Linked DNA regions of Homo sapiens. The protein of the gene in region 3 purifies or fractionates together with the protein of the main gene of each other region. This does not show direct contact. Each region holds a gene or a part of one and is shown on either strand. Other genes may lie near its edges. The genes, in order: TUFT1, CWC25 and CYTH4.

Region 1 (3,040 bases), on a different chromosome or scaffold from region 3:
TTTTTCCTACCATTTCAGGTGGTTCATACATCTCTAGAAGCCATTCATGGACCTCCCTGGGCTTGTGTTAACAGGTTCTACTCTAATTGGGCTAGAAAATGGTTCCGGCAAACAGTGGGTCAGACTGAGGGAGGAAAGTTGGATTTAAAGGAGCCTTGTTCTTGCCTTAGCACTAAAGGTTCTACAGAGCTCTGTCCCTCCTTCTCCCCTCCTCCCTGGCCCCATTCTATCTACACACGCTCACTCACCTGCCCGGGTTCTCTGTCTTGGCCCGGGCCTGGGTGCTGAAGTTGCCATGACTGATTTGTTTTTCTATCAGGTGTTCCATCCGGTCATGCATCTCTAAATTCTGTAACACAAGCTTAGGGGTTAGAGTTGGCCTTTTTCTGGCTTCCCGGGTGCCACGTTCAGCTAGTGCATTCTGGTCTCTCTGCCTGTGTTTATGCTGCTGTTGCCTCTACCCCCACCATGCGTGCCACCACCTGGATACCCACTTGCCTCATCTTCATTACCATAGATTGCGCTTATCCTCCAATACCTGCTCCTCCATAACTCTGTACAACACTGACAGACTGATGGTTTCCTATATGTCCTCTACATACAGTTCTTTTTTTTTTTTTTTTTTTTTTGAGATAGGGTCTCACTCTGTTGCCCAGGCTGGAGTGCAGTGGCGTGATTATAGCTCACTGCAGCCTCGACCTCCTGGGTTCAAGTGATCCTCTCCTTTAAGTCTCCCAAGTAACTGGACTACAGATGCATGCCACCACATCTGGTTAATTAAAAAAATTTTTTCTTTTTCAGAGACAAAGTCTCACTATGTTGCCTAGGTCTTGAACTCCTGGCCTCGAGCAATCCTACCGCCTCAACCTCCCTAAGTGCTGGGATTACAGGCATGAGCCACTGCACCTGGCCCCTATATATAATTTTTTGTCCTCAGTTGAGATACTCACTTGCCTTTGTTGATACGCTATTCTATAAAGCATTCTTTGGTCTTTTTAAAAATACACATTTTATCTCTGACTATAGACTGCAAACTCTCTAAAGATAACCCTTTCTCCCATTTTTCTCCCTCACTACAGGGGATCTTCACAGAGCGTTCGCAAAGTGATCTTCAGGTAGTCAACAGACAGGTAGGGCCCTGTGGCAAAGTGGAAATTAGACTAGGAAGGCAACTCGTTACGTAATCTAGCCCTGGAAAAGGCTCCATCTGTATGAATGCCTCCTCCTCCTTCACAGCCCAGCACCACTGCCAGCTCCTTTGCAAAGCCTGGAGGGTCAGAATTAGCCGTGTGCAGCCATGGCATGTGGCTTGCACCATGATGACATGTCCGTTGAAGGTGGGGCCAGGGGGGTGGTCATCTCATCATTGTTAGCAGCTTCCTGAAGGTTCTCAGAAAATGTTTATTCAGCTGAACTGAAAGTCAACCAACCACCCTAGGTATTCACTTCAGAGCAACAGCAAGACATGACAAAGACCCCTCCCATAACCTCTGTCTCCCTTATGTCCACCTTCTCTTCAAGAGTCCTGTTCCCCTGCTGGGCTGCCCAGCACACACACCTCTGCCTCCAGATAGGCGATTTTCTCCTTGAGCTCCTGGATGGTGGCGTCCTTTGACTGGATCACAGCTTTTGAATTCTGGAGCTGCAAAGGTGTGGGAGACACTGGAGCTCATTTTGCAATGACTCATTACACACTCACCAGACTTCACCCCAGCTGCTGGGGAAGGCAGCAGAGCCCTGCAACTCCATATGACTTCATTAGCTTTTCTACAAAGGCCTCCTTTCAGTCAATATTAGACTCTTGATTATCCCAGGGGTGGGAGTGAGGAGTGTGTGAGGGGAATACCACCCTGAGAATCCAAAATAATGAATGACAAAACCCATTCCATATGGCTTTGGAAAATACAAATTATTTTTTCATTCAAGACATATTTATTGAGTACTTACTATATGACTGACTCTGTTCGAGATAATGGAAAACAGCACTAAATAAAACAGACACTAATGGAGCTGACATGAAGCACATACAGCCTCCCAGTTATGGGGCCTTAGGCTCTCAAAACAATTCTGCAAATAGACAAATCCTAAGTATGCTACCCTCAAGCTCAGGTGGGGTAAGGCAGGAAAGCAGCCATGAGGCTCAAAGACTGATAATCTGCACAGATAACAGAGTTTATTATGACTCAACTACTCATTTACCCACACTCTTCACAGAGTATATGACAAATTAACCTTTTCCTTCCTTTCCTATTGGAAAGCAGAGGCCAAATGGCAAACAAACAAACAAAACAGTAGGGGAAAGATGGGAGAAAAGCAAATCCTAATAACCTGAACCTGGTAATTGGTAGCTATAAATGTTTGACATGGGAAATGCATGAATATAAGTCAAGCTCCCTAGGAAACAAATAAGAGCATAGACTTGGGGTGACTCCCCGAGGGCAGGTTACAAACCAGCCCAACTTACCTGCTCTATCATTTGCCGGACTTTCCGCTGCTGGCTCTTGAGCATGTCATCCAAGTGGTGGATCTTCTCCCGCAACCCGGCCACTTCCTTTTCCAGGGTAGCAGCCCTGGGGATAAAGACCAGAAGGCTGAGGCAATGGAACAAGATCACTTATTTACCCAGTCACAGGAAGAGCCTTGAGCTTGGGAGGTTCCCATTAATATGATTCCCTTTGCCTGATTCCCTGGTAGGCTGCTCTGAAGAGTAGGTGGTGGGTACCTTAGAATATCACATTGGAAGCACTGAGGTCAGGAGTTCAAGACCAGCCTGGCCAACATAGTGAAACCCCACCTCTACTAAGAATACTAAAATTAGCCAAGTGTGGTGGCGTGTGCCTGTAGTCCCAGCTACTCAGGAGGCTGAGGCACAAGAATCGCTTGAACCCAGGAGGCAGAGGTGGCAGTGAGCCAAGATGGCGCCACTGCACTCCAGCCTGGGTGACAGAGCAAGACTTTGTCTCACAAAAAAAAAGAATATTACATTGGAAGCATCATCAGGGATCACCTAGTCTAAGAGAGGAAACTGAGGCTCGGAAAG
Region 2 (3,653 bases), on a different chromosome or scaffold from region 3:
TCCGAAGCGGGTGGATCACTTGAGGTCAGGAGTTCGAGACCAGCCTGGCCAACATGATGAAACCCCATCTCTACTAAAAATACAAAACATTAGCCAGGCGTGGTGGCGGACGCCTGTAATCCCACCTACTCAGAAGGGTGAGGCAGGAAAATCACTTGAACCTGGGAGGCAGAGGTTGCAGTAAGATCACGCCACTGCACTCCAGCCTGGGTGACGGAGCCAGACCTTGTCTCAAATAAATAAATAAATAAATGGTGCTTGTCCTCATGAGGCTTACGAGTGAATGGAGAGAGAATATTCACTCACATAAAGCAATTTATAAGGAAAACCAGTGTTCCTCAACATGGGGTGTGGATCTTGGCTCAGAGCTTCTCGAGTCTCCTTTACAGAGTCTTTATATTATGCTTTCATTTCCAAGATGACCTAAAACAATGAATAAGCACATTCTACATCACCATCTTACCATCAAGAACAATTTCAGTGACCACATACGCAGTTGCATTGATTGTGCATCTTGGTGCTTGTGGGCACACAGACACCAGCGGTAACACTACACATTTGAGGGGATGATGGGAAAAAATCAGAGGTAACTGAATAAGTGACGCTTTCAAGCCAAAAGAGCCAAACACTGAATACGTGAATCATTAGGTAACTATCTGGGTTTCACAAGTGAATAAACCCTGGTCTCAGCCATCTAGGGGCCAAATTAAGTCACAGCATCATGCCACACAAACATTTCCCTGCGGTTCTGGGAGAAAAAAGTGGTGAGAAAGTGGAACCCTCATACCACAGACAGTAAAGGCAGGCTAAATTCATAAGAGCATGCGTGGAAGCAGCCAATACTACATTCACACTGCAACCAGGAAAGTACTTTCATTGACAGTATTATCTATAACCTGAAATTAAATGCTTTTTGAATATGACTTTTTTGTTCTTTTTTTTCTTTTAGACACAGGGTCTCACTCTGTCACCCAGGCTGGAATGCAATGGTGCGATCATGGCTCACTGCAGCCTTGAATTCCTGGGCTCAACAAATCCTGCCTCAGCCTCCCAAGTAGCTGGGACTACAGGGATGCACCACCATGCCTTGCTGATTTTTTATTTTTTCAATTTTTAAACAGATGGGACTTGCTATGTTGCCCAGGCTAGTCTCAAACTACTGGCCTCAAGTGATCCTCCTGCCTCAGCCTCCCAAAGTGCTGGGATTACAAGGGTGAGCCACCATGCCCAACCTGAATATGACTTTTTAAATGTGTATACTTGTTTTTGAGGTTATATAACAACTGTGAGCATAAAGAATGTTTTCCTAGTTGCATGCTTGGACATTTTTGGTAAGAATAATTTAAACCAACACTGCAGGGCCATGACCCTTTTTTTTTTCCCCCAGACAGAGTTTCACTCTGTTGCCCAGGCTGGAGTGCAGTGGAGCGATCTTGGCTCACGGCAACCTCTGCCTCCCAGGTTCAAGTTATTCTCCTGCCTCAGCCTCCCGAATAGCTGGGACTATAGGCATGTGTCACCAAGACTGGCTAATTTTTTGTACTTTTAGTAAAGACGAGGTTTCACCGTGTTGGCCAGGCTGGTCGATCTCCTGACCCCGTGATCTGCCAGCCTTGGCCTCCCAAAGTGCTGGGATTACAGGCGTGAGCAACCGTGCCTGGCCCCAAGACCCTTTAGAATTTTTTTCATATTAAAAAAATGAGTCTGAGAAACACTGTAGTCTACAGTTAAGAACTGATCAGCTGGGCACGGTGGCTCACACTTATAATCCTAGAACTTTGGGAGGCCAAGACAGGCTGATCACGAGGTCAGGAGATCAAGACCAGCCTGGCCAACACAGTGAAACCCCGTCTCTACTAAAAATACAAAAAACTAGCCAGGCGTGGTGGTACACGCCTGTAGTCCCAGCTACTCGGGAGGCTGAGGGAGGAGAATCGCTTGAACCCGAGAAGTGGAGGTTGCAATGTGCTGAGATCATGCCATTGTACTCCAACGCAGGTGACAGTGCGAGACTCGGTCTCAAAAAAAAAAAAATAAGAATTGATCATGGGGCCGGGCGCTGTGGCTCACACCTGTAATCCCAGCACTTTGGGAGGCCTAGGCGGGCAGATCACTTGAGGTCAGGAATTCAAGACCAGCCTGGCCAACATGGTGAAATGCCATCTCTACTAAATATACAAAAAAATTAGGCCAGGCACAGTAACTCACGCCTGTAATCCCAGCACTTTGGGAGGCAAAGATGGGCGGATCACAAGGTCAAGAGACCAAGGCCATCCAGGCCAACATGGTGAAACCCTGTCTCTACTAAAAATACAAAAATTAGCTGGACCTGGTGGCGTGCATCTGTAGTCCCAGCTACTCGGGAGGCTGAAGCAGGAGAATCGCTTGAACTCAAGAGGCGGAGGTTACAGTGAGCCGAGATCGCACCACTGCACTCAAGCCTGGTGACAGAGCGAGACTCTGTCACACAAAAATAATAACAATAATAATAATAATAATTAGCCAGGCGTGGTGGCACACGCCTGTAATCCCAGCTACTCAGCAGACTGAAGCAGGAGAATTGCTTGAACCTGGGAGGTGGAGGCTGCAGTGAGCGGAGATTGTGCCACTGCACTCCAGCCTGGGAGACAGAGCAAGACTCTGACTCAAAAAATAATAATAATAATAATAAATAATAGGCCGGGTGCAGTGGCTCACGCCTGTAATCCTAGCACTTTGGGAGGCTGAAGCGGGCAGATCACAAGGTCAGGAGTTCAAGACTAGCCTGACCAACATGGTGAAACCCCATCTCTACTTAAAATACTAAAATTAGCCAGGCGTGGTGATGTGCGCCTGTAATCCCAGCTACTCAGGAGGCTAAGGCAAGAGACCCGCTTGAACCCAGGAGGCAGATGTTGCAGTGAGCCAAGATCGCACCACTGCACTCCAGCCCGGGCGACAGAATGAGACTCCATCTCAAAAAATAAAATAAAATAAATAACAAAAATAAAACCAGCCGGGCACTGTGGCTCACATCTGTAATCCCAACACTTTGGGAGGCCGAGGCGGGCGGATCATGAGGTCAAAGATCGACACCATCCTGGCTAACACAGTGAAACCCCGTCTCTACTAAAAATACAAAAAATTAGCCGGGCGTGGTGGCGGGCGCCTGTAGTCCCAGCTACTCAGGAGGCTGAGGCAGGAGAATGGCATGAACCCGGGAGGCGGAGCTTGCAGTGAGCCGAGATCGTGCTGCACTCCAGCCTGGACAACAGAGCGAGACTCCATCTCAAAAAAAAAAAAAAAAAAAAAAAAAAGAACTATACAAAACAAACAGATGAATACTTAAGTCATCTAAATACATTAGCAGTAAAGACCAAAAAGAGAAGGGGCAGAGAGAACCAAATGCTGATCTTAGTGTTTTACAATATTGTAGGACATGTGATAGGGCAAAACAAAACAAAGCATATAAAATCACCTTCCCCCATTCACGACAGACAAGCAGGCATGAGTCTGCAACAATGCTGGCTCCTTTCTCTACAGTTGTGCATCTGTACTCTGACCTCATTAATCAGACTCCACAAAAGCCCAAATTTCTGATAAATTGAGCACATGATGTGTAATGCTTTGGTGAATAAAAATGTCAAAACAATTTTTACCTTTGGATAGTACCT
Region 3 (3,653 bases):
CCCTCCGGAAACCCAGGACTTGCCCTATTCACAGAGGCCCACCTCCTCCAGGAAGCCTCCCCTGACTGCCCTGTCTAAAGCAGCCCCTGCTCCCTCCTCTCCTGCCCTGCTTCCTGTTTCTCCCACCCCCCTGGATAGACACCCCCAAAAGGATCCTGTTTCCTTGCATCTTTTCTGTCCCTCCCGCTAGACTCTCGGCTCCATGAGAGTTCAGTTGTTCTACTCTTTTGCTCACTACTGTGTCCCCAGCACCTAGAAAGAGTCTGACATGTCATAAGCACTCAGTTAAACACTCGCTGAAGGCACGCATTCCTTCCCCGGAACTTGAATCTCCTCCTCCACTGGCTCATGGGCTCATTATTTATTCACTTATTTATTTGAACAACCAAGAAGTGGTATACCATTTTCCTCACATCCCATTGGCCAGAATGTAGTCACGTGGCCACACCTAGCTGCAAGGGAGGCTGGGAAATGAGCCTGTAGCAGGGTGGTCCTGATGTCCTTACTGTGTAAAATGGGGAGGCTGGATTTGGGGGATATTTTATAGTCCCTGCCCCTGGATACTGGGGCTCAGAGAGGTGAGGTGACTCAACCCACAGGGAAAAGGTCACTGAGCCAGGATGGGACCTTGAATTGGGCTGACTCCAAAGCCTGTGCTCTTTCATCTCCACTTGGAAATGAATTAAATGAAATAAGATTTGTGTGTGCGGCATTCTATGCAAGGTGCTGTGATGATGCCCACAACTAGGTCAGCTGTCCTATCTTCATGCTTCATGGTGGCTTCTGTTTCATCCACAACACTCTCCTTCTCTGAGTAATATGGCCTCCCTATTACTCAGAGAGAAAGTCTTCATCCTGGGCCTGGGGCCTCCACAACCTCTCCAGCCTTGGCAGCCAGACTTATTCCCTGCCATTCCCAAAAAGAGCCTGCCAGTCCAGCCTGCCAGCTCCTTCCTGCTCCAGAGCCATCCAGGACTCAGTCCCACTTCCCCATGTTTGCCCAGGCCGCTCCTGTACTCTGGGATGCCTTCTCCTGTCTGCCTGCCCAAATCCTCGCTGACCTTCAAGTTCCAGCGTCGGGAAGTGCCTGGCCGCATTTCTTAAAGGTTTTACAAGGATAGACATCATTTCCTCCAAAAGAACACAGAGGGAATGTTGAGCGCTCCCTTTCCCTACTTCTCCTTCTCATGATTAAGCAGGCATTGTGGCTGTTGAGATTAAAGCCCCATGCGGAGATGCAGGGCACCAGGCTAGATGGAGCCCAGGTCCCCAGGCAGCGGTGTGGAGAAGACTCATCATGTTCACCTGGCCCACCTATCCATTTGGACTTTTCAATAAGAAATAAATCAGTTTTGAGAATGTTTCGGTTGCTGTTATTCTGAGTCTCTTTAAGCAGCTAAATCTGAGATATACCTAATACAGCATCCTCATCTGTGAAATGTGAACCATAACCCTTGCCTCACAGGGCAGCTGTCAGGAAGGAAAGAGCTACACTTTGTCAAACACCCAGCAAGAATCCAACATATGCTGAGTCCCACATGTGTGCAATGGGTGCTGTGTGCATCTGGCTCTTCTCTTCAGGACCAAGGCACCATCCCCCCAGCTGCTGGGAGGAAAGCCTGCTGATGGCTCACAGCTGAATCCCTCCCCAGACACTAGCCTCAGCCAAAGGGAGGTGCCACGCCCAGGAGTTCCCCTGACCAAGGGCAGCCACTGCAATAAAAAGCCAAGTCCCGGTCAGGCAAGGTGGCTCACGCCTCTAATCCCAGCACTTTGGGAGGCCGAGGCGGGCGGGTCACGAGGTCAGGAGATCGAGACCATCCTGGATAACACAGTGAAACCCCATCTCTACTAAAAATACAAAAAATTAGCCAGGCATGGTGGTGGGCACCTGTAGTCCCAGGTACACCGGAGGAGGCTGAGGCAGGAGAATGGCGTGAACCTGGGAGGCGGAGCTTGCAGGGAGCCCAGATCATGCCACTGCACTCCAGCCTGGGCAACAGAGTGAGACTCTGTCTCCAAAACAAAACAAAACAAAACAAACAAAAAAACCCAAGACCCCTTGCCTGGTTTCAGGACCTACCCCAGTTTTCAGATACAGAACGTCGGGACTGAAGGAGAGGCTGGGTTCCAAGGGAAGAGTCCTGCAACATTGTGGCAAGTATATATGGCAATGACTCCCTGGTTCCACATTAAAACACCTGTGGCCATTCACTCCAACAACTGTACACTGGGGAAAGAGCAATATCCAAACATTCTGAGGATTGTTGGACACAGGATCCAAGTTGACATCAGCGCTCAAGACTGAAGTGTCTTCAGGGCCACATTTGAGTGGGGGTACATAGAGACCAGGTGGTAAATGAAGTCCTTCCAGGTCCAGCTCACTAGGGGTCTGCTTGATTCATGGCCACTTTCCTGGCCTACAGATGTAGAATTGGAATGGACATCGCTGGTACTTGAGCCCATATTGGTACCTTGGCCCATGGGGTCAGGATCATTGTAGTGGGAATAGCTATTTGGAAATTTATGAAGCTGACCCATCATCCCCACAGCGAAGAGACTAAATAAAAAACTATATCCTGAGGGGAATGGCAGGTGTGGGTGCCACTCTTGAGACCTAACGGATGCAGGAGCAATGGCCCTCATCACATACCCAAGCACTTCCCCGGTCGGGAGGATGGCCTGCTCCTTCCAGCTGCTTCCTTCTAGCAGAGAATTATATACTATGCAGAAAACAGTTCCTGGAATGGCACCGGGTCCTGGTAGAGATAGAGTGCCAGCCCACGGAACATCATGTAACTAAGTAGCTCAGATGGCTCCATCTGTCCCACTAAGTCAGAAGGTCAAGCGAGCCCAATAGTAACCCTTTGTGAGTGGTACGTCCAGGAGCAGGTGTGAGCAGAGCCAGAGGGCTCCAGTAGGCTCCAGGGATAGGTGGCCCAGATCCTCATGTCACCGCTGCTGGTGGACCAGGGTCTATCCCTCTGCTTACACCGTGACCACATGGGTGGGTCCCTTATGACTTTCTAACAACAGAGGAAAATGCCCAAGGCTGGTTGCAGAATGAGTTGGCTCAGAGTTTGGGCGCAAGTGAAAACCAGGCAGCTACTGAACTACAGTCCTGCTCAAAGGTGTCCTGGAAAGACAGTGATGAGGGCAAGTCCTCCCAGGGGGCAGGGCTTCAGGCAGGGCACCTGGCCATCCACTTCCTGTGGAAAGAGAAGTGACTTCTTGAAGTCAGAATATCCATGCATCATGGGCAGTGGTGAATGGCTTGACTTCTTGGTCAGAGGCAAGAAAGAAGGAAGATGGGAAGATCAGAAACACAGATGTCAGGAGAAGAGGCAGGTGGATGACCCCGTGGGAGCGGAATGTCCACTCTGCCAGCAACAGGGACGCATGCTGAGCCCATCTTTTCTCCAGAAGACCAGGGGGCAAACTGATTCCATGAAACCCCTTCTATTCTGCAAAAGTCAACAATCCATCTTGTCTGGAGTCGACACGTGTTGGAAATGTGTTTGCCTTTCCTGCCCACAGAGCCTCAGCCAGCACCACTATCCAGAGGCTTAGGGTGTTTGACCCACCAACACAGCACACCACATAACATCACAGAAGACCAAGGGATGCTCTCTACAGCAAAGGTGGTCTGAAGT

The links.
Region 1: the proteins of CYTH4 (region 3) and TUFT1 purify together in Homo sapiens (affinity purification with mass spectrometry; one large-scale study listed by BioGRID and IntAct). This does not show direct contact.
Region 2: the proteins of CYTH4 (region 3) and CWC25 purify together in Homo sapiens (affinity purification with mass spectrometry; one large-scale study listed by BioGRID and IntAct). This does not show direct contact.

Annotation. Positions count from the first base shown.
Region 1 is NC_000001.11:151,578,251-151,581,290, reverse strand, and holds part of TUFT1 (tuftelin), read right to left. Parts: intron 2,571-3,040; coding exon 2,465-2,570; intron 1,643-2,464; coding exon 1,559-1,642; intron 350-1,558; coding exon 249-349; intron 1-248. UniProt on the Homo sapiens protein: Involved in the structural organization of the epidermis. Involved in the mineralization and structural organization of enamel.
Region 2 is NC_000017.11:38,815,319-38,818,971, forward strand, and holds part of CWC25 (pre-mRNA-splicing factor CWC25 homolog), read right to left. Parts: intron 424-3,653; exon of another isoform or gene 307-423; intron 1-306. UniProt on the Homo sapiens protein: Involved in pre-mRNA splicing as component of the spliceosome.
Region 3 is NC_000022.11:37,288,890-37,292,542, reverse strand, and holds part of CYTH4 (cytohesin-4), read right to left. Parts: intron 1-3,653. UniProt on the Homo sapiens protein: Promotes guanine-nucleotide exchange on ARF1 and ARF5. Promotes the activation of ARF factors through replacement of GDP with GTP.